Regions from separate parts of the Homo sapiens genome. Here all the other regions are reported to be linked to region 4. Evidence: microRNA targets listed by miRTarBase, many of them from high-throughput screens and not tested one by one. Region 4 holds a microRNA gene; each other region holds the end of a gene's coding sequence.

The links. The annotated mature microRNA hsa-miR-513a-3p reads UAAAUUUCACCUUUCUGAGAAGG and lies in region 4 at 3,279-3,301, shown strand. An mRNA with a match to its seed (bases 2 to 7 or 8) in the 3' UTR can be bound and repressed. Matches are read on the target gene's strand: a 7mer-m8 pairs with bases 2 to 8, a 7mer-A1 pairs with bases 2 to 7 and ends in A, and an 8mer does both.
Region 1: the mRNA of ABHD10 is a reported target of hsa-miR-513a-3p. Seed matches in the 3' UTR shown: 7mer-m8 at 1,336-1,342, 7mer-m8 at 1,387-1,393 and 7mer-m8 at 1,421-1,427.
Region 2: miRTarBase lists EIF2AK2 as a target of hsa-miR-513a-3p. Seed matches in the 3' UTR shown: 7mer-A1 at 3,902-3,908, 7mer-m8 at 6,056-6,062 and 7mer-A1 at 7,339-7,345.
Region 3: the mRNA of RNF6 is a reported target of hsa-miR-513a-3p. Seed matches in the 3' UTR shown: 8mer at 5,590-5,597, 7mer-A1 at 5,579-5,585, 7mer-A1 at 5,255-5,261, 7mer-A1 at 4,992-4,998 and 7mer-A1 at 4,879-4,885.

The regions. Positions count from the first base shown.
Region 1 is chr3:111,990,747-111,998,587 of GRCh38, forward strand. It overlaps ABHD10 (abhydrolase domain containing 10, depalmitoylase), which reads left to right. Exons shown (of 5, transcript NM_018394.4): 5 at 631-2,622. The coding sequence ends at 975. Among named protein-coding and RNA genes, the nearest start is that of TAGLN3, 4.3 kb to the right of the region's middle.
Region 2 is chr2:37,101,218-37,109,058 of GRCh38, reverse strand. EIF2AK2 (eukaryotic translation initiation factor 2 alpha kinase 2) reads left to right here. Exons shown (of 17, transcript NM_001135651.3): 16 at 1,532-1,585; 17 at 1,664-7,841. The coding sequence ends at 1,786. Among named protein-coding and RNA genes, the nearest start is that of GPATCH11, 21 kb to the right of the region's middle.
Region 3 is chr13:26,208,072-26,215,912 of GRCh38, forward strand. RNF6 (ring finger protein 6) reads right to left here. Exons shown (of 5, transcript NM_005977.4): 5 at 4,704-7,521. The coding sequence ends at 5,753. Among named protein-coding and RNA genes, the nearest start is that of RNF6, 10 kb to the right of the region's middle.
Region 4 is chrX:147,221,320-147,229,160 of GRCh38, reverse strand. It overlaps MIR513A2 (microRNA 513a-2), which reads left to right and starts at 3,209; the gene lies at 3,209-3,335. All of the region lies in intron 2 of LOC105373347 (periphilin-1), which reads right to left.

The DNA.
Region 1 (7,841 bases), not on the chromosome of region 4:
CATGAGTATGTGTATGATTGTTACAATGTAATTACTCTTATTTTTTTATTCTTAGTTCTGTGTTTGATTCTTTCTCTTCTTTCCCTATGCCATATCCATTTTAGCTACTTATAAGCACTTTTAGGTTTACAATTTTGAAATCTAAACAATGTTTATTCTAAGATTTGATTTTATTTAAATATGAATGATACCTGGACTGATTCCAAGAAATTGTAGTGCTTTTCTCCCTCTTCATTTTTCTTTTCAGTTGGGGTGAAGCAACATCTGATTTGAGATAGTGTATGATAAAATTAAATAAATTTAAATTTAAGTTTGAGTCTTAGCCATAACAGTTAGTAGCCTAGCCCTGAACTGTTGCACACAGTATTTCATTTATCTAAACCATAATATCCTCTTTTATAAAAATAGAATAATAACAGAATTATTATCAGAATCTTATGGAATAATATGTATAAAATACCCATCACAGTACCTTGCATGTAGTAATTATTGATAATTATTATTGTTATACTTTTGTTATCTCTATCCTCTTATTCAAGAACTGCTTTCATTAGATTACTTAAAACTATTGCATGTGTTAATGTTGCCTAAAGTCACAAATACTTTTATTTTTCTTTCTTTTTCCAATAGCTAAAAAAGGAAGTAGAGATGAAAGGTGTGTGGAGCATGCCATCAAAATACTCTGAAGAAGGAGTTTATAACGTTCAGTACAGTTTCATTAAAGAAGCTGAACATCACTGCTTGTTACATAGCCCAATTCCTGTGAACTGCCCCATAAGATTGCTCCATGGCATGAAGGATGACATTGTACCTTGGCATACATCAATGCAGGTTGCCGATCGAGTACTCAGCACAGATGTGGATGTCATCCTCCGAAAACACAGTGATCACCGAATGAGGGAAAAAGCAGACATTCAACTTCTTGTTTACACTATTGATGACTTAATTGATAAGCTCTCAACTATAGTTAACTAGTATCACATGTTTAGTTGGTATGTAAACTAATGTATCCAGAAGATTGGAAGAGGGATAAGAAATGAAAGATCCTGATACTTTAGGTTTTTCCCTTTCCTCTATTTTGTAAATATAAGATGAGTATTATTTAATGATGTATTTGCATAAGTAATGCAAATTGTGAAGAAGGACCAGCTGCTGTTTAGAAAATTTTCTCCTTCCTTCTGTCCTTGATTTTTTTTCATTAAAGTATTTCCTTTTTTTAATTCAAGAAAAGTTTACCTTTCTTATGCTTATGTTAGCTATGCCAGCTCTTAATTGCATCCTTTTCTAATTAGGATTATTAATAAAGCGTGAATATTTTGTTTTTTATTATAGACAGAAATTTGTAACATTACTTCTGATTTGAAAATGCAATTCACAAAATATAGGGAAATTTTTATTGAAGTAAATTTGAAATGATGGAGAAATTTCAGAAGCATAATAAAGTTCACAATAAGGATAATACTTTATATAATGTATAAAGTATATATAATATAATATATATGTTATATAAACTGCACATTATATTCAAACTTAAAATTGAGCTTTTTTTTTAAAGGCCCAAAATTGTACAGTGATACAAGGAGCTATTTCTAAAATTTGGCTTATGTATAATATATTTAAATGGGGAATTTCATCTAAAACAATGATGTAGTATTTTTAATATTCTGATTGGTAAAATTAAAGAGGAAATTAATCTTTATATATTATTTCTTGCAGAAACATTCATTATTTTATTAATATTGCCCTAAGTACAACTAGGCAAGTGATTGCCACCTAAATCAGAAGACGTTCTAAAGTCAGTAAGAAAGTGTGAAATGCTAGTATAAAGGTTATTTTTTTTCTTTCCTAAATAACTAAAGTGAGGTGTAGATTGAGCCTTGATATTATTTAGTTAATGTTTTTTATTAATTAATTTTGGCTGGACTTTATTTAGCTTGATTAGGTTATTATCTGTCAAACCTTTTAAGTTGACAACATGACTCATATATATACATGTGTATAAGATGAGCATGTGTCGAAGACTTATTCGACTCATTAATGAGGAAACCAGCAGATAGTAAACCTGGTTCAAAGTACAATTCAAGAAACTGAGTATTTATGGGCATTGAAGAAAAAATGTTGAGATAAAATTGCTGTGCAGAAAAAAGTGTTAATGAAGCCGACCTGACTACTTAACCTTAGAGACCTGCTTTACAAGGTTGGCCCTTGATTGGCATCTGGGAACTTGGAGTTCAGGGGGCTTCCACCATTCCCAGAACTGATCAAAGTAGCTTACTATATCTAAACTGTAAAACAATATAGTTTCTCCTGAACACCTGCTTTCCTTCTGGGAGTCTGGAATTTTGGTATGTGCCAGGCAGAGACTACCTTTGTGACCAGCTCCCAGTAAAAACCCCAGGCACTCAGTCTCTAACAAGCTTTTCTGGTTGACAGTGTTTCACAAGTGCTGTTACAACTGGTTGCTGGGAGAATTAAGCTCATCCTCTGTGATTCCACTGGCGGAGGATTCTTGGAAGCTTGCACTTAGTTTCCCCTGACTTCACCCCATGTGTCTTTTTTCCTTTGCTGATTTTGTTTTGTATCCTTTCACTGTAATAAATCATGGCCGTGAGCAGAACTGTATGTGGAGTCTTATGAGTCTTCCTAGCAAATCTTCAAATTTGGGGGTGGTGGTGAGGGCCTCTCCACAGATACAAAACTGGTTTATGTCCTACGGGGCAATTAAACTACAATCCATGGGTTATCTTTTATACTGGACAAAAATTACAAACAGCAAAGATAAATCATCTATGAGTGCCACAGTCTCTGGTGCTGGAGTGGGTTGATAGAAGATGGCACTGGCTATTCAAGGACTTACTTTGCCTAGACATTGCTAGGTGTGAGGCTTGTTAGGAACATGAAGGCAAGGGCCCTTGCCAATGATGGTTTTCTGCGCAAAATAATAAATATGATTTGAGATTTATAATACATATGTAGAGACAGTATAGCATAATGGTTAAGGTCAGAGACAAGCTTGGTTTTTAATTTTGGCTCACCATTTACTAGCTCTGTGACTGAGCAGTTAACCTCACTGAGTCTCAGTCTCTTCTGTAAAATAACATAAACCTAGATAATGCGGTGTAAGGTCTAAATAAGCACAATACATTTAGAACAATGACACAGGAGGCAGTATCTTTTTGCTTTTCATTATGTACAGAACACAGTCCCTTCAGAGACTGATGGACACAATCAATGAAGGCATAGGAAGGAAGGTGGAGGCAAGGAAGTGGGTAGGTCTTCTAAAGCTGAACTGAACTGGACTGGATTTGACCTTCCTGACCTCAAGATCCCAAATAGGAATGTTGTATGGTATTCTTTCAAATGCTAATGGTTTAAAACAAAAAAGGAGAAGGAACCTTTATTACCTAAAGTTAGGAAAATCTTTTAAAATTTAATCTAGCTTTGCAGAGGTTAACATCGCAAATTCCAAATGAGTTTGCATCCATGAGATTTAGTGTATTTTAGTGCGCTGTTAATTATTTGTTTTTTCTAGTTTTCCCCAAAGCTCCTTTCTGAAACCGTTCCATCCCATGTATTTAGTGACGTGTAAAATGGAGGAATAACTGGGAGCCCTTCAGTGCCTTAGCCCCTGGAACTTAGTCATTATTTAAAATAAGTGACACGACCCCTCTAAATCTCAGTATGCACAACAGAAAGGGATAAGGCAAATACCATTTGAAAAGAAGGCTAAGTGAAGCCACGTAATCTATTTTGCTTTTGCTACATCTGTTGAGATTAGAGGCATTTCCAGATACAAATCTAAAAAGTACACCATTCTCCAAACAGCCAATATAGAAACGTCTCTGGAGAATGAGAAGAAAAAAGCTCTGGGCAACACTGAGTTTTATAAAATATGGAGATAGAAAGCTGAAAGAATTACTTGCCACATAACTATTCCCAGGATAGTCCCCAAAGCGAATATGTCAAATACTCATTAAATTTGGAACAGTTAAATCTAAAGAATTTTTATATTCTGGGGTTGAGGTGGGTGGAATTTCAATATACCTTTTTAAGATCCTCTAAATATAGATCTCAAGTACTTCTTAGTTTAGAAACAATCGTGGAGATGTGTAATGGTTGGATGAAAAAAATGTGATGCTTTGGTGTATTTAGAGAATATACCTAGAAAATTGCAGGCAATTTTTTTTAACCAAATGTATCTTTTGGGGAAAATATACATTCCCATTTTGTCTTCCCCTTTTCCTAGGCTTTCAGGGTTTTGCAGGTAAACTTCTACTAAAGAAGAAGCTCAAAAGTCAGTCTCTCAGAATCCTTTCCTTACTCATCCCCATCTCTCTTTTTCAGGAAGTTTGTTGCTGGGTCCTCTGGGCTCTCTTGTGAACAGTACTCTATCCATGCCTTTTTGGTACCACTTGCTGCTTTGAAATTCTCAGTTTATATCCTAGCTTCCTTCTCTCAAAGGATGACCAAGGTCAGAAGCTTTATTTTGACATTGTTTGTCCTCAGACACCTCTGACTATGCTATATCAACCCCTTTACTGGCTCCTCCTCCTTGCCCACCTTATAATGTTAATACTCCTTGAGTTCTGGCCTTGGCAGTCTTCTCTTGCTACTTATTCACCTTGAGGAACATCACCCATGTTCATGGTTTAAACTACTACCTGCTTGCAGGTGACTCAACTACATACCTACAATCTAGACTCTTGAGCTCCAGACCCATAAAACCAACTGCCTAATGAACTGGGATGGACCATGGGCTTCCCAAATGCAGTAAATCCAAACCTTATTATCTTTTCTGCTTTATGTCTCTCCCCACCTATGAGTCCTCTTAAAATAAATGGCGCCACCATTGCTTCTGTTATACAAGTCAAACTTGTGAGTCATTCTGTCTCCTTTTCCTTTACCCAAATCAGATTGATGATCCTCTCTCTCTATGAAAAAGCTCAAACTCTTGCATGATATGTGAGTCCATGAAAGGCTGGTTTAACAAACAAAAACCAGTTGCTGAAAGCCAGTTTAACAACTGGCTTTTGGTGGTGGGGTGGAAGCCCTGATTTGTAGCATTTGCTAACATTCACAGCATAAATATTCCTGCCCTGGCTGGTTTTAAACTACATCATGACATCTCTGAATGCAAAGCTGGAAGAAAATACCCAGTAGCACACCATCACATAGTATTTACACCATATAGAGACAATAAACGCAAATATCCTCAACATAGCTAACAGTAAAATGTAGCAAAAAAATCAGGAAGTGCTTCATTTTTAGTAACTTTTCTTTGTAATATAACTTATTTAAGAGTAAGTTAATATAACCTTATTGCTAAGAATGACTGAGTTTAGCATCTGTCTCTTGAAATTCCTGAAAATTTAACCATGGGCACTTGCAAACACACCATTTTATAATCTGGAGCCTGCCTGACATTCCAGCCTCATTTTTCTTTCTATGTTTCTCTTCTCTTTAACCCTATGTTTTATTAATACTGGAAGATTTTCACCTTAAATACACTTCTTTTGACAGCAACATTCCCTACCCCTCTTGCCTCACTCTATCCACCTGGCAAACACCTACTTGTCTTTCAAGACTTAAAATAATCTCATTTATAAATCTGTCCCCTGATTCCTTAACACCCTCCTCCAGGTATTATTGTACCAACCTGAGTTCTTTGTGCATAATTTTAGCATGACATCTGGCATTTATTGTTTACAAGTTTAACTTCGTTACTAAACCAAATTGTCATGTATCATTTATTTTTGTGTCTCAGCTATACACATAGGCCCTTAAAAAGTTGTTGAGGCCAGGCGCGGTGGCTCACGCCTGTAATCCCAGCTCTTTGGGAGGCTGAGGCGGGCGGATCACGAGGTCAGGAGATTGAGACCATCCTGGCTAACATGGTGAAAACCCCGTCTCTACTAAAAATACAAAAATAAGCTAGTTGTGGTGGCTCATGCCTGTAATCCTCGCTACTTAGGAGGCTGAGGCAGGAGAATCACTTGAACTAGGGAGTCAGAGGTTGCAGTGAGCTGAGATCACACCATTGCGCCCCAGCCTGGCCACAGAGTGAGACTCCGAATCAAAAAAAAAGAAAGAAAAAGTTGTTGAAAACATTAACTATAATACTAGTAGGCACTTAGTAAATGTGGCATTGAGCTGATTTCCACTGTCACCCCTGAGGAGATGAAGCATTTTTTCTCTGAAGACTTCCTCTGGATTTCTGGACACTTCCATGCCCTGCTGTGGCCCCTCTCTTTGCCATTGTATCCTCTCTAGAAGCATGGGCCCAGTCATTCACTTAAAGCACACCAGCTACTCTGTTATAATATGAGGGACTCTTTGGGTACAAAAGATTTGCAAAACACAGTGTTTAAAAAAAGTCAAGCAAATGTACATCTTTAGAATTGTTTCAAGCTTTGCATATCAAACCAACAACTTCCTTAGAGCCATTCCAGCCATGGAAAAAATTATGTGGTTTCTGTTTGGGACTCCGTTCCCTTAGTCTAAGGTTGGAACTAGCCTTATGGCTCCTCCCCAAGATACCAATGATGACTTCCATAATTCTTCTGTCAATTTCCCTGCTCTAAGCTCTTCCCCTAAGCTCCAAGTGTCCCAACACAGTGCTGCTGTCTTTTGAGCTTCTTCAACTGATGATTCCATGCAGCATCAAGACCTGCCTTAGTCAGCCCTTCCCTTGTCTCTTCCTAAACCTACTGCTCTCCTGAATCTCCTAGTTTTCTGTTTTCAGAGGACTGTCTGCCAGGCCTTCAACGACTGACCGCTAAGTCTTTTTCAGGCAAACCACCCACATATCTCCTAAGTAATTAAATTTTCATTAGTCCAGGCATCAGCCGGTAGGAGATTTTTCTCAATACATGTATTATTTGAGGAGTCATTTCCTGCATAGCTTCTAATCAATTTCCCACAGGGACAAAGATCATCATCCCATGTACCCAGAATTGCTTTATTTAATATGCTTGAGTCAATTTATCAATCTGTTTTCAATGCAAGAATTGTATTTTATTCCTCCTCAGTCCAGTAGTTGGCATAAACACTCAGTAAATATCTGTTGAATGAAGAAATGAACCAAACGAAAAAAAATGTGGAATTTTTCTCATGAAAAACACCCAGAGAATTACACAACACCAATGAGACTCAATCTTTACCCACAAATGGCTTACAGTCTAGGAGGACAAACTGCCAAGCCCTTTAGCTGTTATAAAAATGTGGGGCCAACTTAGAGCTAATGGTTTCTCCTGAGTGCTTGTTTGCCCATGAGAAATATTCAGTTACTTCTGACAATATGTCGGTTGTGCCTTCACGGTCCTTACTTCAGATGAAGTCTTTACATTCTATCAAAACCTTTCACTCTAAGAGTTCTTAGTCGTTGAGTTTTGTTTAATTTATAAAACTTGCCGGGCGTGGTGGCTCATGCCTGTAATCCCAGAACTTTGGGAGGCCGAGGCAGTCAGATCACCTGAGGTCAGGAGTTCAAGACCAGCCTGACCAACGTGGCAAAACCCCATCTCCACTAAAAATACAAAAATTAGCCAGGCCTGGTGGCACACACCTGTAATCCTAGCTACCTGGGAGGCTGAGGCAGGAGAATCGCTTGAACCCAGGAGGCAGAGGTTGCAGCCAGCCGAGATTGTGCCACTGCACTCCAGCCTGGGCAACAGAGCGAGACTCTGTCTAAAAATATATAGTAAGAATTATAATAATAATTTATAAAACTTGTTCTTAGTGTCTTTCAGTTAAGAGTAGCATGAAAAAAATACCTCCCTTGAATAAGTCAAACTGAGGCACAACAGTTTCAGGATGGAAGTTTCTGGGTGAAGTTGGGCTGG
Region 2 (7,841 bases), not on the chromosome of region 4:
AATTTTCTGTCTTTCAAGGTTTGGCAGAGACCAAACACTTTCTTAAAGACCAAAAACTTTGATCTTCCCTGGAAGGTAGTACATCTCATAAGACTTGTAAGACTTGTCAGTCAGTAACATTTTATTGATTGACTGCTTTGTGTAAGACACTGTGCTAAGTGCTGTAAGGGTTGCAAAAATAAACAAGCCTTGGCTGGGCGCGGTGGCTCACCCCTGTAATCCCAGCTTTGAGAGGCCAAGGCAGGCAGATCACTTGAAGTCAGGTGTTCGAGACCAGCCTGGCCAACGTGGTGAAATCTCATCTCTACTAAAAATACAAAAATTAGCTGGGTGTGGTGGTGCACACCTGTAATCCCAACTACTCAGGGGGCTGAGGCAGGAGAATCGCTTGAACCTGGGAGGCGGAGGTTGCAGTGAGCCAAGATCACACCACTGCACTCCAGCCTGGGTGACAGAGTGACATTCCATCTCTAAATAAATAAATGAATAAAGCCTTGTTCTCAAGGAGCTTATTTTCTAAAAGGGAAGATAATATAAGAGAATGCCATAAGCATTTTAGGAGAAGGCATGAAGTCTGTGGAAGCAGCTGGGAGGGAGATCTTTCCAGCTGTAGGGACTTAGGTTTCATGGAGACATCTAAGCTGGGCTCTGAAGGATCTGTTGGCTTCTAATAGTCCAAAACAGAAAAGTTGATTCTAGCATGGAGGCGGGAATGTACAGAGTGTATTTGGGGACAGCAGGCAGTGTAAGTTGTATTGGAGTATATAAGTTACAAGGAAGTAGTGGTTGGTGAGGCTAGAAAGATAGGTTGGGCTAACTTGAGGAAAAAATGTGGACCTTCTTGCTTAGACAGTGGGGAGTCACTAAAGGCAGTAGGCAAGTGGATATCCTACTCTTTTTTTTTTTTTTTTTGAGATAGAGTTTCACTTTTATTGCCCAGGCTGGAGTGCAATGGCGCGATCTTGGCTCACTGTAACTTCTGCCTCCCAGGTTCAAGCAATTCTCCTGCCTCAGCCTCCCAAGTAACTGGGACTACAGGCGTGCACCACCATGCCTGGTTAATTTTTTTGTATTTAGTAGAGATGGGGTTTCACCATGTTGGTCAGGCTGGTCTCGAACTCCTGACCTCTGGCAATCCACCCGCCTCGGCCTCCCAGAGTGTTGGGATTACAGGTGTGAGCCACTGCACCCAGCTGGATATCCTACTCTTAAGCTCAGGAAAGGGAACTTTCCTGGAGTCAATAACCTTATCCTCTGTAAAACAGTTAGAAGTACCTATCACTTAGGGTTCCAAAATGCATGAAGGGAGATTGTAAAGATGATGCACTTAACACTTCATGTCGTAATGCAAGGATGGTTATTAGATTGGGGGTAGTGTAGGAGAGAGGGAATCCTGCTTGCTTCTTGGCTAAAGAGACTTTCCCAAAAAATCTGGAAATATCCTACATTTCAGGTATTCCTCAGCCTTTAGTTCTGTCTTTCCTCCCAAGTAAATAATTTCCTAATATACACCTATCATTTTTTTTTCCAGTTTTTCACAGACCTACGGGATGGCATCATCTCAGATATATTTGATAAAAAAGAAGTAAGCACTTGAAAATCATCAGAATTTTATTTATTTCAATGTTTTATTTCTTACTATTGACTCTCACTGTCATTGCAGAAAACTCTTCTACAGAAATTACTCTCAAAGAAACCTGAGGATCGACCTAACACATCTGAAATACTAAGGACCTTGACTGTGTGGAAGAAAAGCCCAGAGAAAAATGAACGACACACATGTTAGAGCCCTTCTGAAAAAGTATCCTGCTTCTGATATGCAGTTTTCCTTAAATTATCTAAAATCTGCTAGGGAATATCAATAGATATTTACCTTTTATTTTAATGTTTCCTTTAATTTTTTACTATTTTTACTAATCTTTCTGCAGAAACAGAAAGGTTTTCTTCTTTTTGCTTCAAAAACATTCTTACATTTTACTTTTTCCTGGCTCATCTCTTTATTCTTTTTTTTTTTTTAAAGACAGAGTCTCGCTCTGTTGCCCAGGCTGGAGTGCAATGACACAGTCTTGGCTCACTGCAACTTCTGCCTCTTGGGTTCAAGTGATTCTCCTGCCTCAGCCTCCTGAGTAGCTGGATTACAGGCATGTGCCACCCACCCAACTAATTTTTGTGTTTTTAATAAAGACAGGGTTTCACCATGTTGGCCAGGCTGGTCTCAAACTCCTGACCTCAAGTAATCCACCTGCCTCGGCCTCCCAAAGTGCTGGGATTACAGGGATGAGCCACCGCGCCCAGCCTCATCTCTTTGTTCTAAAGATGGAAAAACCACCCCCAAATTTTCTTTTTATACTATTAATGAATCAATCAATTCATATCTATTTATTAAATTTCTACCGCTTTTAGGCCAAAAAAATGTAAGATCGTTCTCTGCCTCACATAGCTTACAAGCCAGCTGGAGAAATATGGTACTCATTAAAAAAAAAAAAAAAAGTGATGTACAACCACTTCGGAAAACAATTTGGCATTATCTAGTAAAGTTGAATCCATGTATACCCACATAGCTATCAATTCTATTCCTACATACGTGCTTACAAGAATGTCCATAAAACCCTGTTTATAATAGCCAAAAGAACAGGGAACAACCATAATGCACATCAAAAGAAGAATGGATTAAAAAAATTATATTCACACACAGGAGTACTATATAGTATTGAAAACAATTGAAGTACAGCTAAATGTAATAACGTAACACAATACAACTCTCAGAAACATAATGTTAAGCGAACAAAGCAGGTTTTCAGAAAATATATGCAGAATAATTCCATTTATATAAAGTTCCAGAGCATGCAAAACTAAATCATTTTGTATAAAAAACCCAACAAATGTGATGAGACAATAATGGGAAGGAAGGGAATGAGAAATATTAAATTCTGGATGGTGGTTATCTTTGAGGGAGGGGAATGATGTGATTGGGGAAATGGACTTTCAAAGGTAATGGTAACTTCCTTAAGCTGGATGGTAGGTCCACTAGTGTTTGCTGCATAGTTATACCTTTTATCTTAAATACATTTTGTATCTATTGTAACAACCACTTTAAAGACAACCGTGCTGTAAGGCAGTAGCTAAAAACAGAAAATAGTCCATCGGGAAGGGTAAGATGGCTTTCTGCTGAGCACAGGGCTAGAAGTGACAGCCCAGTGGGCCTTCCAACTATATGCCAGGGTGTTAGATGAGTAGAGAGGAGACCACCCAGGAAGTCTGGACAAGGGGTCTGGCATGAGCTCTGGAGAAGATATATTTGAGGAACATGGGGTATGCTAGTTTGTTGTCCTGAATTGCTGTAGAGAAGATAATTTAAATTGCATCTTAGAAGACGACCCTGAGGGTGAATTTCAACTTAGGGCAATTGTTTTAGTTTGTTTCTTATTGGTTTAAATGGATACTTGAAGCTGGATAATTTATAAGGAAAAGAGATTTATATGACTTACAGTTCTGCAGGCTGTACAAGAAACATGGCACCAGCATCTGCTTCTTCCCCGGCTGCTTCCACTCATGGTGGAAGGTGAAGGGGAGCCGGATGTGCAGAGATCATATGGCAAGAGAGGAAGCAAGAGAGCGAGGGAGAAGGTGCCAGGCTCTTTTTAAATAACCGGCTCTTGAGGGAACTAATAGATTGAGAACTCCTTGCTTCTCCTCCCCAGCACACCCCACCCCCAGGGACGGCATTAATGTATTCATGAGGGGTCTTCCCCCATGACCCAAACACCTCCCATCAGGCCCCACCTCCAACACTGGGATCAAATTTCAACATGAGATTTTGGGGGACAAACATGCAAACTATAGCAGCAACCAGCTACCATTCTAAAACTGCCATATGATTTTAGGATTTTTAAAAAGGGCCAAATTTAGGTTAAGCAAAAAGTGAAAATACAGTAAGAGAAAATAGTTTTATAAAGGCTTTAAAAAGTGTTCATAAAGAGCAGTTCATAGATTTTTCACGTAACGTTCATCAATAGATGCTAAAACTATTGGATGAAAAGCTATTGTGGAATAGGATCTTCTACAAGGATTTAAATATAATCCTACAGAAGAGGTATCAATTATACAGGGGAAAATGTACCTTTACAATGGTCACCACAATAACCAAGTGATTCAATTTAGCATCACCCAAGGTGGAACACCCTAACATTATGCCCCTCCTGATGTGACTTAAGAATTTTACCTATTTAGTTTTCTTGCACAAAGTGTTAAACTGGAATTTAATCATGAGGAAATTATTAGACAAATCCTGAATGTAGTCATTCTATAAGATGATTGACTTGGGCTTCTCAAAAAGTCAGTGTCATGAAAAAAAAAAAAAGGGGAGAGACTTGTAAGATACAATGACCAAATGCAATGTTTGAATCTTTATTGTATTCTGGATATTTAAAAAGACAAAAGCTGGACGCAGTAGCTAATGCCTGTTATCCCAGCATTTTTGGGAGGTCAAAAGGGGAGGATGGCTTGAGCATAGGATTTTGAGACTAGCCTGGGCAACACAGTGAGTTCTCATCTCTACAAAAAATCAGAAAATTAGCTGGGCATGGTAGTGTGCATCTGTGGTCCCAGCTACTTGGGGGGGTGAGGTGGGAGGATCACTTGAGCCTAGGAGGTCAAGGCCGCAGTGAGCCATGATCATGTTACTGCATTCCAGCCTGGGTGACAGAGTGAGATCATATCTAAATAATAATAATAATAAAAGAAAGCAACAACCCAGCAAACAGCTATAAAGATATCTTCGGGACAATTGAGAACATTTGAATATAGACTGCATATTAGATAACAATGCCAAATAACTGTTTTCTCAGGTGTGATAATAGTATATGTAGAAAATGTCTTTTTGTTTTGTTTTATTTTGTTTTTGTTTGTTTGTTTGTTTTGAGACAGAGTCTCACTGTGTCGCCCAGGCTGGAGTGCAGTGGCACGATCTCGGCTCACTGCAACCTCTGCCTCCCAGGTTCAAGTGATTCTCCTGCCTCTGCTTCCTGAGTAGCTGGGATTACAGGTATCTGCCACCACTCCAGGTTAATTTTTTCTATTTTTAGTAGAGACGGAATTTCACCATGTTGACCCAGCTGGTTTTGAACTCCTGACCTCAGGTGATTCACTTGCCTTGGCCTCCCAAAGTGTTGAGATTACAGGCATGAGTCACTGCACCCAGCCAAAAATGTTTTTTTAGGCAATGCATGCACAAACATTTAGAGGCCAAGTGTGTCATGATGTCTGCAACTTTCAATGTTCAGCAAAAATCAACATGGAGAGAGAAAGAGGGCACACATGTGGCAAAATATTAGCCATTGTACAATTGGTAAATCTAGATGACAGTACACAGGTGTTTGTTGTATTATTCTTTGAACTTTTCTGTAGATTTGGAAATGTTCTGCGTAGAGAGAAATCTTTTTTTAAAAAAACAATATCTGGTTTTGATTAATGAGGCTATATTCAAAAGAAACACTAAATGATGTGGCCAGTTAGTGAGAATGTAGCCTTATCTTTACTGACCTCATTTTAATATTCCTACTCTGGCTGGGCATGGTGGCTCACGCCTATAATCCCAGCACTCTGGGAGGCCGAGACGGGTGGATCACCTGAGGTCAGGGGTTCGAGACCAGCCTGGCCAACATGGTGAAACCCCATCTCTACTAAAAATACAAAAATTAGCTGGGTGTGGTGGTAGGCGCCTGTAATCCCAGCTACTCGGGAGTCCGTGGCAGGAGAATCGCTTGAACCCAGGAGGTGGAGGTTGCAGTGAGCTGAGATCACGCCATTGCACTCCAGCCTGGGTGACAAGAGCAAAACTCAGTCTCAAAAAAAAAAAAGAAAAAAAAAGATATATATATTCCTACTCTTATTAAATGAATATAGCATTTCTTAGCAACTTCTTTTGATTTGTGAGTATATATTTTCTTGGCCTCAAAATTAAAGTAAAAAGTATCCTCTTACTCAGAGGAGGACAGGGGCAAGAGCCTGGGACCTTATTTGCTAATTAAAATGCACACACACACACACACACACAGAAATTTTGAGAGCCATTTTAATATAATTGCCTCCCTAGAAACATACCTTTTAGGGAATTTTTATCACTAAACCACATGTTATTTAAATACGTACATGTTTAACATAAATACATACATAAAATTCACATGCATACTTAACACTTATGTTAAATATATTCAATGTATATACATATGTACACAATATATGCATATATACATGTGGGTATGTGGTATGTGTGCATGTGTGTGTATGGCCAGCTACATAATTTGTGGGACTAAGGGCAAAATGAAACTGTACGGCCCTCGTTCAAAAATTAGGTGTGGGGTGCTTCTAAGCACAGTCTTGTGCAACTGCACAGGTTGCATGTCCATGAAGCCATCCTGTGTGTGTGCACATATGTGTATGAATATGTATTTTATATAATACATATATATGCATGTATGTATCTGAGAAGAAATGTTTAAAAGGCTACATACAAGCTTTTCCAGGTCTCTACTATCTGTTAACTAACTAGAGACATAACTCACAATATGCAGTCCCCACTGAGTGTTCACCATAATTTGAGATTCTTGGCATGTTAACTTTTCATTATGGAATATTGAATAATTTCAATATTATTCATACATTTCTTTATGTTCAAACATACACAAAAATAGAATAATGAAACTCTACCCATCACCCAGCTGCAACAAATATCAATACTTTACCGTTCTTAATACATCTAACCCCTTACTTTTTGTTTGTTTCTTTTGGTGAAGTATTTAATTGTAATTTTTTTTTTAAGAGACAGGATCTCACTCTGTCACCCAGGCCAGAGTACAGTGGTACGATCACAGCTCCTTGTAACCTCGAACTCCTAGGCTCAAGTGATCCTCCTGCCTCAGCCGCTTGAATAGCTGGGACTACATGCATACACCAACACACCCAACTAATTTTTAAATTTTTTGTAGAAATATGGTCTTGCTGTGTTTCCCAGGCTGGTCTCAAACTCCTGGCCTTGAGAGATTCTCCTGCCTTGGTCTTCCAAACTGCTGGGATTACAATATCCGGCCCTACTGGAATATTTTAAAGTAAATCTCAGGTGTTACATCATTGCACTTGTAAGTACTTTAAAATGTATCTCTAGCAGATAAATCTTTTTAACAAAACCACAGCATCATTGTCACACTCAAAAAATTGACAAGATTTCCTTAATTATCATATAATAGTCTGTATTGTTTCTATCTCAAAAATACAGTTTTCTTGGTTGTTGAAATCTAGATCCAACATTGCATTTGGTTGATGTGTCTCCTTTACTCTGTAAAATTTACCCCTGCGTTTTAGTTCTTTTCGGCTTTTATTTGTCCTGTGGAATTTCCTCCACTCAGGATTTGACTGAGAGTATCCCCAGAGTGTCCAGTTAGACCTAGAAGCTGGATTTGATCCTGGTTCATTTATTTTCCCCCAAGAATACTCCATAGGTGATGCTATACACTTTCTCTTACATCATTTCAGGAGGAACATGATGTCTGATTGTTCCACTTTCAGTGATTTTAATATTGATCAATGAGTTCTGGTGGTACCAACTACTACAAAGTTTCTCATCAATCTTTCACCTGATGGTTTTAGCAGCTATTGATAATTGTTGCCTGGATCCATTATTTCATTTCAGGGGTTGTAAAATAGTGATTTTCTGGTTCTATCAAACCTCTTGCATTTATCATCTATGATTCTTCTTTAAGGAACTTTCTCTAAATCTGAATGGGAAAGATGCGATAAATATTTATCAAATTTTAGAGTGAGTTAGTGCCCTAGCAACCTCCACA
Region 3 (7,841 bases), not on the chromosome of region 4:
GCTGGAATGGAGAAGAAGATTTAGGTGTGTGCAGAAAAGAATTTACATGGTAGGCCTCAGGCTGGCCCTAGAAAGGCTTGTTTGCAAGGTTGGCTCTTAGCTGGCAGCCTGGAACTGGACTGGGGGAATACTCTATTCCCTGAGAAGGGTGGACCACTGTGCCTAAACTGTTTGTGCAAACAATATAGTTTACGCTGAACACTTGCTTTCCTCCTGGGAGTCTGAAATTTTGGTATGTGCTAGGCAGAGGGTGCCTGTATGACCAGCCCCCAGTAAAATTTTGGGCACTGAGTCTGTCACGAGCTTTTCTGGTAGACAACACTTCTCTCATGTAGCCACAGTTTGATGCTGGAGGAATTAAGTGTGTCTTGTGTAACTGCTGGAACAGGACTCTTGGAAGCTTACCTGGATTTCTCTAGACTTTGTCCCATGCACCTTTCTCCTCTGCTGACTGTGCTAATATCTTTTCCCTGTAATAAATCTTAGCTGTGAACATAACTCTATGCAGATTCCTATGAGATCTTTTAGTGAATCACTAAATTTGGATGTGGTCTTGGAGACCCCCAACACAGAGATTTATCAGGAACACCTAGTCATTCAGTGCTGGGAATAAAACCTAAGTGGACCCCTCCCAAGTTACATGGTTGCAATGGACTGGTCACATAATCTGATCCCAATTGGTTGGAGTAAAGAAGGTCATGCTGCTCGATCCTACAGACAAAAATGAAGATGCCTTCTATCGTACAATGCACTGGTCTGAAATGCAATGAAAGGACAAGGGTGACATTCAAGGGAAGATTAAAGAAAGACTCCTAACTATTCCAGAGGCAAACTCTATGTGGCTAAGAGTTAGAGTCATAGAAAGATCCTCTTGACAAAATGCTAAAAAAGAACAAACCAACAAAAGACCTAAAGGTTGTGAGGACCATGGCTATTCCTTTAGCAAATTGAGAACAAGACAAGATTTCTGGCATTGGATACAAGATCCTAAATACAATTGTTAAGAAACTAGTTACAGTTTTAAGGAAAGTGTATTGTCAAAAAGTCCCTAGCCTGCTGTATAGAGACCTGTGACTGTCCGGCATTATGGTAGACCCTGAACCAAGCCCCAACATTGAAATGCCAAGATCAAAGCCATTCACCAGCATCTCCTCAAACACCTGCCTGCCATCACCACCACAAGCACCAGTAGGAAATCCTCCCTTGGTGCCTTTTCTGAAGGTGGTTCCAACAATTTATTCTACATCCAGAGAAGTGAGGCAACAAAGAGAATGCTCATGAGACCCATTGTTTCTATCATTCATCCTGCTAAGCTTGCTCAGCGAGATATGCTATTATATAATCTGTACCAGTAATCAATGTATGGCACTTCTTTCCCTGTTTTTGTTTGATTTTTATTCCATTTCACTGTATCGGGTAGGCAGGAGAAGCTACTTTTATCATTTATCCCATAATCTGCAGAATGGTGAGAAGTCACAAACCTGATCAGATCCAAGCTAATGGAGGAATTGACACTACCTAGAAAACCTGAACTCAGAGGGGCTAAATTGTGTCACTTCACAGTACAGAAGCTGCATGTGATTTTGGATTGTTACCCACTGGGGAGAAGGTGAGCACATTTGGAATTGCACAGCACATTTGGAATTGCACAGAAGGTGGCTGGATTAGGATTAAGTAGGAGCATTTTTACAATTAAATGTGTGAGAAGATGTGAGATATATATATATATACTGGGCAGCCAAGAAGTTACTCCATCTTCAAATGAGACATTAACACAATAGAGGAAAAATATGTCTGAAAGTCATTATTTTCCAGAAGAAATGTGAAGTTATTTTTAAAAAGGAATAAAAAATATATAGGGGCCAACTCAGAGTCTTCAGAGATTTAATACTCAAACAAAACTTGCTGAAATGATGGATCTCCAATGATCAAAAGGGCAAATATATTCAGGGACTAACACACTCATACTCACTGAAAATAACTCGCAATCTGTCTCTAGAGACTAAAGAAAAAATCACCACTGACAGCCATCATCATCTTTTGAAACGTGGGATGATGTTCTCAACGATAGATGAATCTGGCTTCCTGGGAAATCATCTCCTAATACAGATACGCCAGCTCTCTGATTTCCAGTGTTGCACAGGACTGAATGAGAGACCCCAAGTGAGCCACCTACTACTGCAAAGTGAATTAACACCCTGGCTTTCATGTAAAGTGCTGTTTCTAGTTTCTCCTCCCCTGGCCACAGATTATTCCAATGGAGAGATGCAGGAAGATTAAAAGTTCATTAGATGTTCTTGTCTGGGAGTAATATACATGAAAATGCCTCAGACTGAGCTTGTCAACTCTGGCCCTTAATGCAGCATCTTCAGATGCCTCATTCATCTCTTTCCTGGATTCATCTTTATAATACAGATTCTGTTATATCTTTTAGGGGCAACTCTTCTCCTCCATTCATGAGACAGAAGGATGTATTTGCCTATGGAAATTAGGGTAATCAGACATATGATAGAACAAAGTTGTAAAATTAGAAAAATATCTTTAGGAGGAATTAAATTAGACTGAAAACTTCCCAAGGCATTTCCACTTCTCCAGAATGCAGCATAGCAGGAAAAGCAGGAGCTTTGGAGGCAAATAGCCACGTGATTGACTCCCTAAACTCTGCCAATTACTAAGTTAGGTAGCAAAAATACTTCAAGGAGAGCTTCAGAGGTTTAAATTATGAATTCATGTTAAATATTGAAAGGAAAATAACCTCGTAAGAGTGATAATTAAGTAAGGGTCATAATGCTGGCTGAAACTAAAAAAATCTAGGAAAAGAGAAAACAGGGTAAAAGGCTGTAACTATGTGAGAGGGCAGCTGGAAGCTGGCAATCTAGAAATAGAAGTTTGCCAGACAGCCACACTATAAAGAACAAGCTCTACGGACCTGACATGGAACATAATATTCAAATGAAGAATTTCTAACTATTTGTTCTTCTCTATATTGGAACCACAAAGGGTATAATCATTGCTAAATAGAAGCTATAAATAGATTAATGGGCCTTTGTATTTGTCATCAGCCTTGTTTATTGGGAAATGAATGAAAATATTAAAGAATATCCTTTTTTATTCCCAACTGGGTTATCAATTTATGAAATTCATTAAGCTGTACTGCTGCCTTCAGGGAATTTTCCATACAAAACACAATCTACTTCTGTTTCAAATGCCTATATGGGATTTCTTTCCATGCTAGTAACATTATCATGTCTTGCAAAGGACTAAGTCAAAGAATCAATATGCCTTTATTTTTTCTGTATCCTTACTTTTTTCATTCCCCTCTTCCTTTGTCCTCCTAATTTTCCTATTGCATCAGGCCCAGGGAGGTAGAACTTCCTGAGGAATATCCCATATAAGAAATAAACGGGCCAGGCATGGTGGCTCATGCCTATAATCCCAGCACTTTGGGAGGCCAAGGTGGGCGGATCATGAGGTGAGGAGTTCCAGACTAGCCTGGCCAACATGGTGAAACCCTGTCTCTACTAAAAATACAGAAAATTCGCCGGGCGTGGTGGCGCATGTCTGTAATCCCTGCTACTCCGGAGGCTGAGGCAGGAGAATTGCTTGAACCTGTGAGGCGGAGGTTGCAGCGAGCCGAGATAGTGCCACTGCACTCAAGCCTGGGCAACAGAGTGAGACTCTGTCTCAATAAAAATAAAAATAAAAATAAAAATGCTGGATTTAGTCTCTCCTCATACTGGGGGCAAATTTTAACACTAAAATAAGTGAGATGTATGAATTAAGCTATGTTCAAGATGTTTAAATTGGCATACCTTGTAACTAATTTGTGCTACCTCTCCCTCCTCCACCTAGGTGATTCTCTCTTCCACCTCTTCATACTGAACTAGAGACCAAACAACGTCTTTTTTTAAAAACCAACATTTTTACACCCTTCTCTTTCCTTTCAGTTTCATTGCCACCATTCTAGGGTAGATAAGTGATGACAACTGGTAATAAAAATAATGATGTCTTTTATCACAATAGTTCTCTTATTGGTTTCTTTGCTTCCCATCTCTCTCCATTCCATTGTGTTCTATATGCTGTAGTAGACCCATCCTCCTGGGCCATGAAAAATGATCCTACCCTATGCCACTAAAATCAAGAGACATCTAACATCTCTATAAGGTAAGATAAAAAGTCCTTAGTTTGCTATGAAAAGCCTTCAAATCTGATTGAAATCAACCTTCCCAGTCTTAGATCCTCAAACTGACCTACATAAATAATTTACTCCAAACAAAGTCACAACTTTTATGAAAACCTTTTACTCCATGTAAATGCACTCCTTAACATTCCTGGGCATGCATCTAACCTAATGAATTGAACATAGTCACCAGTCAGAAAGGAAAATTAAATGTGGAGATATTTCTAAATCTCACAGAATCTGGCCTAAGTACTGTTCTTGTGATTTTGCCCAAACAGTATCACCACAAGAAAATCCTGTCATATATTAATAAGCAAATATGAAAGTAAGAATAATAATTCACTTTATCAATTGATATTCAGTTTCTAAGAGCAAATATGTCTTTTCCATGAAGCCAGGGACTTTTGTCTGTCGTCTGGGAAATACTCTATCCCATAACACTGCCTGGCATCTAGTATGAAATATTAGTGGAGGGTGAATAAACCACAGTGGAACAACAGAAAAACATAGTTCACATACAGTCTTTGTTTTAATGTTTATTGGTAGAAACAGATCTTCAATGCATACTTTGTGTTTATATAAACTCTACATTCTCTTAAAGGTTTTCGTTTTGTTTTCACTGGAGATTTTTAGCCTCCAAGTGAACTTAACATATTGCCTATGCATCTGATTCTTTATAGACTTTTAGATTTTAAAACTAAATTTGAGAAACCATGCATACTGTATACCTTATTTAATAATCCAAAGAATTGTTTGCACTTTCAAAAAAGTTACAAAAAGGCTGAACACAAGTTAAATAACCTATATGATGTAAATTTTCCATTTCTGAATACTTTTTCAGTATTATATATTGCTTGCTGTCTAATAAGTTAGATTGTCAGAGACGCTTCAGTAAATTATCTCTACTTTAAAATTATATCTGAATCCCCTTTCTCTGAGATGAACTTGCCAATATTAAACATTGTGCCATATGCAGTATTAGCCCAAAAGCTTAAATAAGAACCAAACTTGTAGACTGAATATTTTAACCTTAAAATTATATACCTATATATACACCTATGGTATGCTGCATATTAAATTTAACATTTCAAGTAACATATATATAGCAAACATTCAGCCAAATACTCTTTCATGAAAAGATACTGTCCTTAAAATAAAAAGTTAATGAAAAGCTTATTTAGACACAAATGTCTAGATATAAGTACTAAGCCTATGAAACTTGAAGCTAAAGTCTGCTGTACTATTAAGAAAAAGAAGATTGATTCTTAACCTACTGAATTGTGCAGATACAAAAGTGCTTAGCATGACAAAATTACCAAAATAAAAACATTTTAGAGGTTATTTGGTTCTAGCAATATTAACTATTCTGTATTTCTGGATAATTTAACATTTGTATTTTAAATTTTATATAAATTTCTTTTTAACAAGTTTAAAAAAGCACACGAAAAATAGTTCAAACTATATATAATCTGTTATTTTTCATCCTGGTTAGCTAATCACAAATAACTCAGCAAAACAATGCTTGAACATTCAGTTCTACTAAAAAACAGTATTTGAGTAGATCCCATCACCTTACCCATTGTTTGCTATGTTAGACCCTAAAACAGGCTGCCGACAGATCGGACAAGTGCAATTCTCTGAGAGCCATCGGTCAATACAATGAATGTGAAATTCATGCATGCAAGGTAATTGCCTGAGCTTGTTTCCAGTTACATAGTCACTAATACAAACACTACAGATTTTACCTAGTTCACTATCAATACTGTTATGCTCATAGTGCCTGGTGGAAAGATTGTCAATCTGCTCTTTGGTTAAACCACGTATTCGATCATCATCATCACTTTCATTTAGTAAAAAAAAGTGAGCAAGGCGAAGAATGGGTAGTGTTCCAGTTTCAACTAAATTGTTTGGATTTCGCAACTGCCTGCCACCCCTACTGTCACTGTTTCGAGTATGAGGCTGGGTGGTCTCGTTTTCACCATGCATTTCAGTGCTGTCTCCTTGGGCCTGCCTGTCTTGAGAGGAACCTTCCCTGTGCTGGCTCCTGTTGTTATCTGTACCTAAGTTACTCAGTTCTGAGTGCATGTCTGGTAAATGCTGGCCATTTCTTTGAAGTTCTGACTCAGAATCGGCCTCCATTAGAGAACTCAGTTCTCCAAACCCAGTCATGATCTGCCTTAAAATTGACCGAAGAGCCACTGATGATGGCTCAACAAGCTCATTCTCAGAAATCCTACGAAGAGGAACTGTTATGGTACTAACATAGGTTCGAATACCTGACCGCTCTAAACGAGAAATGGTTCGGCGAAAGCCCCCACTATTGCTTTCAATAGTGACTGTATTTTCTGCTAGCCCTACTCTGGATCGAGTTCTATTTGCAATACTATCCCGATCTCTATTTTCTCCAGGACGGATCCTTCTCACTTGAAGGTCCAGTGTGATTGTTGGATGTCGTCGTACAGCAGTTGAGGATCTGCTGGATTCTTCTCCTTCTTCTACTGTTATTCTTGACACAAGCCTTGAATTAGAGAATGGGGTATATGCAGTACCTCTGCGTTCTCGTTCTCTATCTTGCTCTAAAAAGACTCGAGTTCTACCTCTCCTCCTAACAGATCTTCTAGTGGTTTGCTGTACTGGTCTACTTTCCCTTTGGGAATTATGATAAACAGTGCCACTCTGTCTCTGAATTGGTGAACGGCTTCGACTATTGGAAGTAGATCGTAATCTTATTGGCTCTAATCTTTGGTTTGTATTCCTCACTGTAACATTACTTCTAGCCCCATTTTCCCAAACATGTGCTGCTCCAAACCGTTGCCCCTCCCTTTGCCTGAGTTCACTACCACCTGATTGGTTTGTGTGACTACTGAAATTAGTGCGTGAAGCGTTAGCTCGAGGAATGCCAGCTGCTCCCCCAATTCCATTTCTTAACCTTCCCAATGTTGAGAAAGATCCTTCAGCTGGATTTTGCCCCCTTGAAGCAAGCCTAGTCCTTGGAATGTTGGAACTACTACCATTGAAATTCACTGAGGTTTGGCTTCTTGTTCGCCTAGCCACAGGACTAGTTGACCTTTGTTGCCTATTTGCAGTATGATCTCTGTTACTATCTGAAAGTGGAATGTCTGTATAATCTTCTCCATGAATTTCAAATCCTCTATTTTCATGATTTACGTGGATTTCCAAACTAAACCGAAACTCTCCATTGTTCGGGTTTGTTCGACTCACAGCTCTCCAAGTTTGGTTCCCATTTTGTCCACTTCGAGTTGCATTTCCTGTGCGCCGAAAGGTGTTCAACCATTCTAGAAGAGAATCTTCATGTGAACTTTCTCTAGGGACTTCTGAGTCTAGAAAGCAAAGCAAATCAACTTAAGATCAATTCCTAAGACACACCTTACAGCTTTATTGAAAACTTGTAAGAAAAACAAAGTTTGTAATAAATTAAAGAACATCTGTGGATTTTAATGAATGAAAGATGGCAAAAAGACAACTTTCTAAAAGAAAAGTATATCTACTATAAGCATATTATAAAAATTAAATTACTATTTACATAGTTACAAAGCTTTAAATACTATTTATGCAACGCTATGGAGAAATCCTCATTCTTACTTTCTATCTGCCCATTACTAGCAAAATACTAAGGCAAATGAGAAACATGTCCACTACC
Region 4 (7,841 bases):
CTTATACGCATCTCCTTAAATTATATTTAATCATCAAATGAGAAAAATACCAAGGTCATAATTTCATTTAATAAGATACAACTACCATTTATACAACCCAGAATTCATGAACCACTTCACCAGAAGAGGAGATAAAGTCCTGGAGTGTTGTTTGTTTACTCTTCTCCTTGGTGTTCCATAACATCAATACTATGATTATTTAAAGTTAACAACGGTTAATAACTATGATATAATATCAGTACACCTTACGTTACATGATAAGGGGATAAGAGAGACAAGAAAACACAGAAGTATATTAATAAAAATATAAGTAGAAAATACTCATGGGAACTACAATTCTCATTTCTGTAACTGTCATCTGGTGTTAGCTGGTATTTACAACTACTTTTCTTCACTACCCATTTTGTATTCCCTTTGCCTTCAGCAAGCACCTCAGCCATTATATTTTACCTGGTAGAGTGACCCAAACTTTCATTTCTGAAGGGTCTGGGCCATTAGTAGTCCTGCCAGGATTGGGTTGTTGTAGTTTTCTACTGACCTTAATCACAAGGCATAGTAATACTAAGAGACATCTTATGTATTTCAGAAATATTCTTCCTTACCTCCATTGTGGAGTAGTACTCCAATTTTCCCTTGGTAGTCAGAATCACCTGCTCCAGGCCACACAGTAACTCCCTTCTCTGACCTCTTAAAAAATTAGGAAATATTGTATTGACTTTTCTCTTTCCGTGTTTTCAAGATATCTCTTCTTAAACTATGGCTGTTACGAGAGAAAGAGAAAGAGAAAGAGAAAGACAATCAAGCAGAGCCAGACTGAAAGAGACAGACAGACACGACTGGAGCAGTGAGTCTTTTACACTTCTGTGCTGAAAAATGTGAGAGAGCTTGATGCCTCCTTTCAGGTAAACCCTATCAAATTATAGTCAAGTGTTGGCAAATATGGGTTGTGTAATTTGAGTTTGTTTCCCATCTCCAAACAACCACATGCCCCTCCCCAACTCAAGAACTTGATGGGAAATGTAGGTTACAATGAAATAGAAGAAAACTACTCTACTTTCTTTCCTAATAGTATTACCATTCAACTACATGTGGCTACCCTTCATCGTATCTATTTCCATCCTTCTTGCACTCATAGGATTTCCTTGGGCTTTGAGGCTCAGATACCCTGATATATTTGTTGGTGATTGTGAGTTTTTAGCATGTGTTCTAGCACATTTGTTTGTGTTTATATGGTGATGGGGGGAGTAATACATGTATCTGTGTGCACTTTGGTGTATGTGCCCATACATTTGTGTGTGCACGGGGCATGTAGCATGAGGATTTTGTTATGTTGTTTTTGTTTGAGGTTGGATCTCTGTTTTGTTTTTGTTTTGCTTTTGCTATTCTTATCAGTTTATTTCATGTGTATGGTTTTGCTTTGTTTGTTTGACTTTGGCTCCTTTGGGATTATATGTGTTTGTTTGAATTTGTTTTCAGATTTGCCATGCTCTTGGTCATTGGTGTTTTGATTGGTATTTCTTTACGTACATTGCTTGCAATTTTGTATTTTCTTTTTGTTGTTATTTGGATTTCACTGTGTGATTTCGGTTATATTTTAATTTGCATATTAATTTGCACATATGTTGTTGGAACTTTGCATTGTGTATTGCTAGGGTTCTTTCGATGGCTTATCAATTCTGTTTATGGTTAGTTTTTTTGTATTCATATTTTGTTGTATTCTCATTCTTTTTAATATTGTTTACTTGGGCGTATATGTGTCTGTGTATGTGGTTTCATGGAGCAGTGGGTCTTAGAATCTCCTGCTATGATGTGCCAGGTTGCTGGAAAGACTCCTTTGAAGCTACTGAGGGGTGGGTGATGCAGAGGAAGAGAAGTAGTACCTGTACTGGTGTTTGAAGGAGGGAGTATTGTGTCTGTGTATTTTTTTCCCCTTGAGAACTTTTTGGGGAGATAGCTCAAGGGCCCAAATACTTAAGAGAAAAGCTAAATTGATTGATTGATTGATTGATATATATAAATATTTCTGTAGAATCTAACTTTGGTTGCTTTTCATGGAATTCAAAAAATGCAGTAAAATGCTTGAGATATTTAGAATCATTCTGTTCAGTGAACTATGGCTCCTTGACCGTGACTCAGCACTAACACTGAGCTATGTGCTTCTCTGTCTGTCTTTCAGGGGTTATGTTTAGTAGATGAATGAGAATGGTACATAGAAACACTCGGTCTTGACGATCATGTGGTCTGACTTCTACATGCTATCAAGGGCCAGAGCTAGAAGAATCCAGGTCTTTTAATTTGCCTCAGCTCATGATTATTTGTGTACATCACACACACACACACACACACACACACACACACACACACACACACATATATATATATATAGTTTTTTTTTGTTTTTTTTTTTTGAGAAAGAGTCTAACTAACTCTGTTGCCCAGGCTGGGGTGCAGTGGCATGATCTCGGCTCACTGCAACCTCCACCTCCCGGGTTCAAGTGATTCAGTGGCATGATCTCGGCTCACTGCAACCTCCACCTCCCGGGTTCAAGTGATTCTCCTGCCTCAGCAGCTGCGGTTACAGTTGCCCACCACCACACCCGGCTAATTTTTTGTATTTGTAGTAGAGATGGAATTTCACCACGTTGTCCAGGCTGGTCTCAAAATCCTGACCTCTGATGATCCACCAGCCTCAGCCTACCAGAGTGATGAGATTATATGTGTGACCCACTGCACCTGGCCTGATATTGAGGATTTTTAATGAGACAAGCAAATTAACGCGAAAACTAATGGGATAATCCAGACAAGGATTACACATCTCTGGGGAAGAGATGAAGTGAAATGTTATATTCTGGCTAAGCCTAAAATTTGTGTGTTAATTAGCCATTCGCGGTGGTATGTGCCTTTAATCCCAGCTACTTGGGAGGCTGAGGCAGGAGAAGTGCTTAGACACAGAAGGGGGAGGTTGCAGTGAGCCGAGATCACACCAATGCATGCCAGTCTGGGCGACAGAGCCAGACTTCATCTGAAAACAAAAACAAAAACAAAACAAAAATCTGCATGTTAAAATCTCACTTGGGGCAGGATGAAAAGGGGAGCGCCGGGGGCTACAAGTTGCATTGTCCCTTGGCATAAATCTTGGTGGCCATGCCAAGGCATACACCTATAGGGACTTGAAAAAAAACGGCATGAATAGGGAGCATTTGTTCTTGGATGCCACATTCAGCCATTCAGTGTGCAGTGCCTTTCACAGGGAGGTGTCATTTATGTGAACTAAAATATAAATTTCACCTTTCTGAGAAGGGTAATGTACAGCATGCACTGCATATGTGGTGTCCCTGAGGATGGGGGTGTAGCTGCGAGCATGGTGATGCCTGTTTTGCATCCTGTGCACCCACTCTTCAGTGCTGGGCTACTTCAGGGAACTTTTTGTGCCTTCTAAATGACTATACATAGGAACTGTGGACTCCTGAGAAAACGCATGCACTTCGGTTCCTTAAGAATTTATCTATTTTTGCCAAATGAGGCTTGGCTCAAATAAGAAATACATTGGATAGAGGCCACAGCCATTCTTCGTCAGCTGGAAGGCTATATTCCAGATTCCTAAACTTTTCTCACTTATCAAGAAGTCATCATTTGCAAGGATTCTCCTTTAGCGCTCCCAAAAGACTCTCCTGCCTCTCAGGTCCCTTCATTGCTGATCCACAGTGTCCATTTTCTGTCAAAGACTAAAACATTTTCTCATAGACTTTTAAAATACCTTTCAAAGCCTTCAGTCACCAATTTATGGAGGGTTAAGCGTAGTCCACCCAAGAATATTTCACCCTTTTCCATTATCTTTTTTCCCTGTTTTTTATGTTTGAACAATGGAAGCGTATGATAGAGTTGTTACTCAAGAGATATCTCCTAGTCTTCTCTCCCCATTTTCTGTCTTTTTTTTTTTTGAGATGGAGTCTTTCTTACTCTTTCACACAGGCTGGAGTGCAGTGGCGCCATCTCAGCTCACTGCAACCTCTGTCTCCCGGGTTCAAGCGATTCTTCTGCCTCAGCCTCCCAAGTAGCTGGGATTACAGGCGTGCGCCAACACACCTGGCTAATTTTTGTATTTTTAGTAGAGACCAGGTTTCACCACGTTGGTCAGACTGGTGTCGAACTGCTGACCTCGTGATCCACCCACCTCACCCTCCCAAATTGCTGGGATTACAGGCGTGAACCACCATGCCCGGCCCCATTTTCTTGTGTTGACACTTCTTAACTCAACCTAATGGAGAGAGAAAGAGGCAAATACGCACGTGCACAAGAGTAAGACAAGTGCCAGATGGTGTGAGGCCATCTGCAGCATGAAACTAGTATGCATTTTTTAGAAGTAGGTTATATATAAATAAGCTACTTATATTGGGGAAATGTGTTTAAAAATGTTATAAATAGTAAGTGATTGATTAATACAATTTTGATTCCAACGGAAATAGAGGTTACAGCATATACACCGAAAGAGAGAAACTATAAAAAAACAATTACTATATGGTTACAGGCAGGATTTTAGTTTATGTTTGTTTTTTTAGGTTCAGAATGGATGAATATGTATAAGACCATTAATGTCTGGAAGTAAAAAAAATCAGTTGAAGTATCTTTTTCAATATTAAAACAATTGTACTAATAGAATATATAGAACTTTTTTCATTGGAGGCGGGGGGACATTCTGAATAATAAAAAAAAATTCTGTCCGTTGGAAATACTGTATGTGTGTAGAAATTTCCAAAGTGATAACTCTTTTTAGCATATAATTTCTAAAACTGTATTAGAGAGAATTCATGTGTACTTAAATAAGTGATATCGTAAAATGAAACAAAGACAGAGAATTTAGTTATATCTCTTTTAGGATTTCTCAAAAAGAGTACTATCTCTTTTAGGATTTCTCAAAAAGAGTACTATATTCACTGGTATTTATGGTTTTTCTTTCAGTGAAATACTTTTTTGTATAAGAATGCTTGTGATTTTTGTACATTGATTTTGTATCCTGAGACTTTGCCGAAGTTGCTTATCAGCTTAAGGAGATTTTGGGCTGAGACAATGGGGTTTTCTAGATATACAGTCATGTCGTCTGCAAACAGGGACAATTTGACTTCCTCTTTTCCTAATTGAATACCCTTTATTTCCTTCTCCTGCCTGGTTGCCCTGGCCAGAACTTCCAACACTATCTTGAATAGGAGTGGTGAGAGAGGGCATCCCTGTCTTGTGCCAGTTTTCAAAGGGAATGCTTCCACTTTTTGCCCATTCAGTATGATATTGGCTGTGGGTTTGTCATAGATAGCTCTTATTATTTTGAAATACGTCCCATCAATACCTAATTTATTGAGAGTTTTTAGCATGAAGGGTTGTTGAATTTTGTCAAAGGCTTTTTCTGCATCTATTGAGATAATCATGTGGTTTTTGTCTTTGGCTCCGTTTATATGCTGGATTACATTTATTGATTTGCGTATATTGAACCAGCCTTGCATCCCAGGGATGAAGCCCACTCGATCATGGTGGATAAGCTTTTTGATGTTCTGCTGGATTCGTTTTGCCAGTATTTTATTGAGGATTTTTGCATCAATGATCATCAAGGATATTGGTCTAAAATTCTCTTTTTTGGTTGTGTCTCTGCCCGGCTTTGGTATCAGAATGATGCTGGCCTCATACAATGAGTTAGGGAGGATTCCCTCTTTTTCTATTGATTGGAATAGTTTCAGAAGGAATGGTACCAGTTCCTCCTTGTACCTCTGGTAGAATTCGGTTGTGAATCCATCTGGTCCTGGACTCTTTTTGGTTGGTAAACTATTGATTATTGCCACAATTTCAGCTCCTGTTAGTTATTGGTCTATTCAGAGATTCAACTTCTTCCTGGTGGTCTATTCAGAGATTCAACTTCTTCCTGGTTTAGTCTCGGGAGAGTGTATGTGTCGAGGAATGTGTCCATTTCTTCTAGATTTTCTAGTTTAGTTTATTTGCGTAGAGGCGTTTGTAGTGTTCTCTGATGGTAGTTTGTATTTCTGTGGGATGGGTGGTGATATCCCCTTTATCATTTTTTTATTGTGTCTATTTGATTCTTGTCTCTTTTTTTCTTTATTAGTCTTGCTAGTGGTCTATCAATTTTGCTGATCCTTTCAAAAAACCAGCTCCTGGATTCATTGATTTTTTGAAGGGTTTTTTGTGTCTCTATTTCCTTCAGTTCTGCTCTGATTTTAGTTATTTCTTGCCTTCTGCTAGCTTTTGAATGTGTTTGCTCTTGCTTTTCTAGTTCTTTTAATTGTGTTGTTAGGGTGTCAATTTTGGATCTTTCCTGCTTTCTCTTGTGGGCATTTAGTGCTATAAATTTCCCTCTACACACTGCTTTGAATGTGTCCCAGAGATTCTGGTATGTTGTGTCTTTGTTCTCGTTGGTTTCAAAGAACATCTTTATTTCTGCCTTCATTTCGTTATGTACCCAGTAGTCATCCAGGAGCAGGTTGTTCAGTTTCCATGTAGTTGAGCGGCTTTGAGTGAGATTCTTAATCCTGAGTTCTAGTTTGATTGCACTGTGGTCCGAGAGATAGTTTGTCATTCTTATACACCAACAACAGACAAACAGAGAGAGAGCCAAATCATGAGTGAACTCCCATTCACAATTGCTTCAAAGAGAATAAAATACCTAGGAATCCAACTTACAAGGGATGTGAAGGACCTCTTCAAGGAGAACTACAAACCACTGCTCAAGGAAATAAAAGAGGATACAAACAAATGGAAGAACATTCCATGCTCATGGGTAGGAAGAATCAATATCGTGAAAATGGCCATACTGCCCAAGGTAATTTACAGATTCAATGCCATCCCCATAAAGCTACCAATGACTTTCTTCACAGAACTGGAAAAAACTACTTTAAAGTTCATATGGAACCAAAAAAGAGCCCGCATCGCCAAGTCAATCCTAAGCCAAAAGAACAAAGCTGGAGGCTTCACACTACCTGACTTCAAACTATACTACAAGGCTACAGTAACCAAAACAGCATGGTACTGGTACCAAAACAGAGATCTAGATCAATGGAACAGAACAGAGCCCTCAGAAATAATGCCGCATATGCCGCATATCTACAACTATCTGATCTTTGACAAACCTGAGAAAAACAAGCAATGGGGAAAGGATTCCCTGTTTAATAAATGGTGCTGGGAAAACTGGCTAGCCATATGTAGAAAGCTGAAACTGGATCCCTTCCTTACACCTTATACAAAAATCAATTCAAGATGGATTAAAGATTTAAACGTTAGACCTAAAACCATAAAAACCCTAGAAGAAAACCTAGGCAATACCATTCAGGACATAGGCATGGGCAAGGACTTCATGTCTAAAACACCAAAAGCAATGGCAACAAAAGCCAAAATTGACAAATGGGATCTAATTAAACTAAAGAGCTTCTGCACAGCAAAAGAAACTACCATCAGAGTGAACAGGCAACCTACTCATCTGACAAAGGGCTAATATCCAGAATCTACAATGAACTCAAACAAATTTACAAGAAAAAAACAAACAACCCCATCAAAAAGTGGGCAAAGGACATGAACAGACACTTCTCAAAAGAAGACATTTATGCAGCCAAAAACACGTGAAAAAATGCTCACCATCACTGGCCATCAGAGAAATGCAAATGAAAACCACAATGAGATACCATCTCACACCAGTTAGAATGGCAATCATTAAAAAGTCAGGAAACAACAGGTGCTGGAGAGGATGTGGAGAAATAGGAACACTTTTACACTGTTGGTGGGACTGTAAACTAGTTCAACCATTGTGGAAGTCAGTGTGGCGATTCCTCAGGGATCTAGAACTAGAA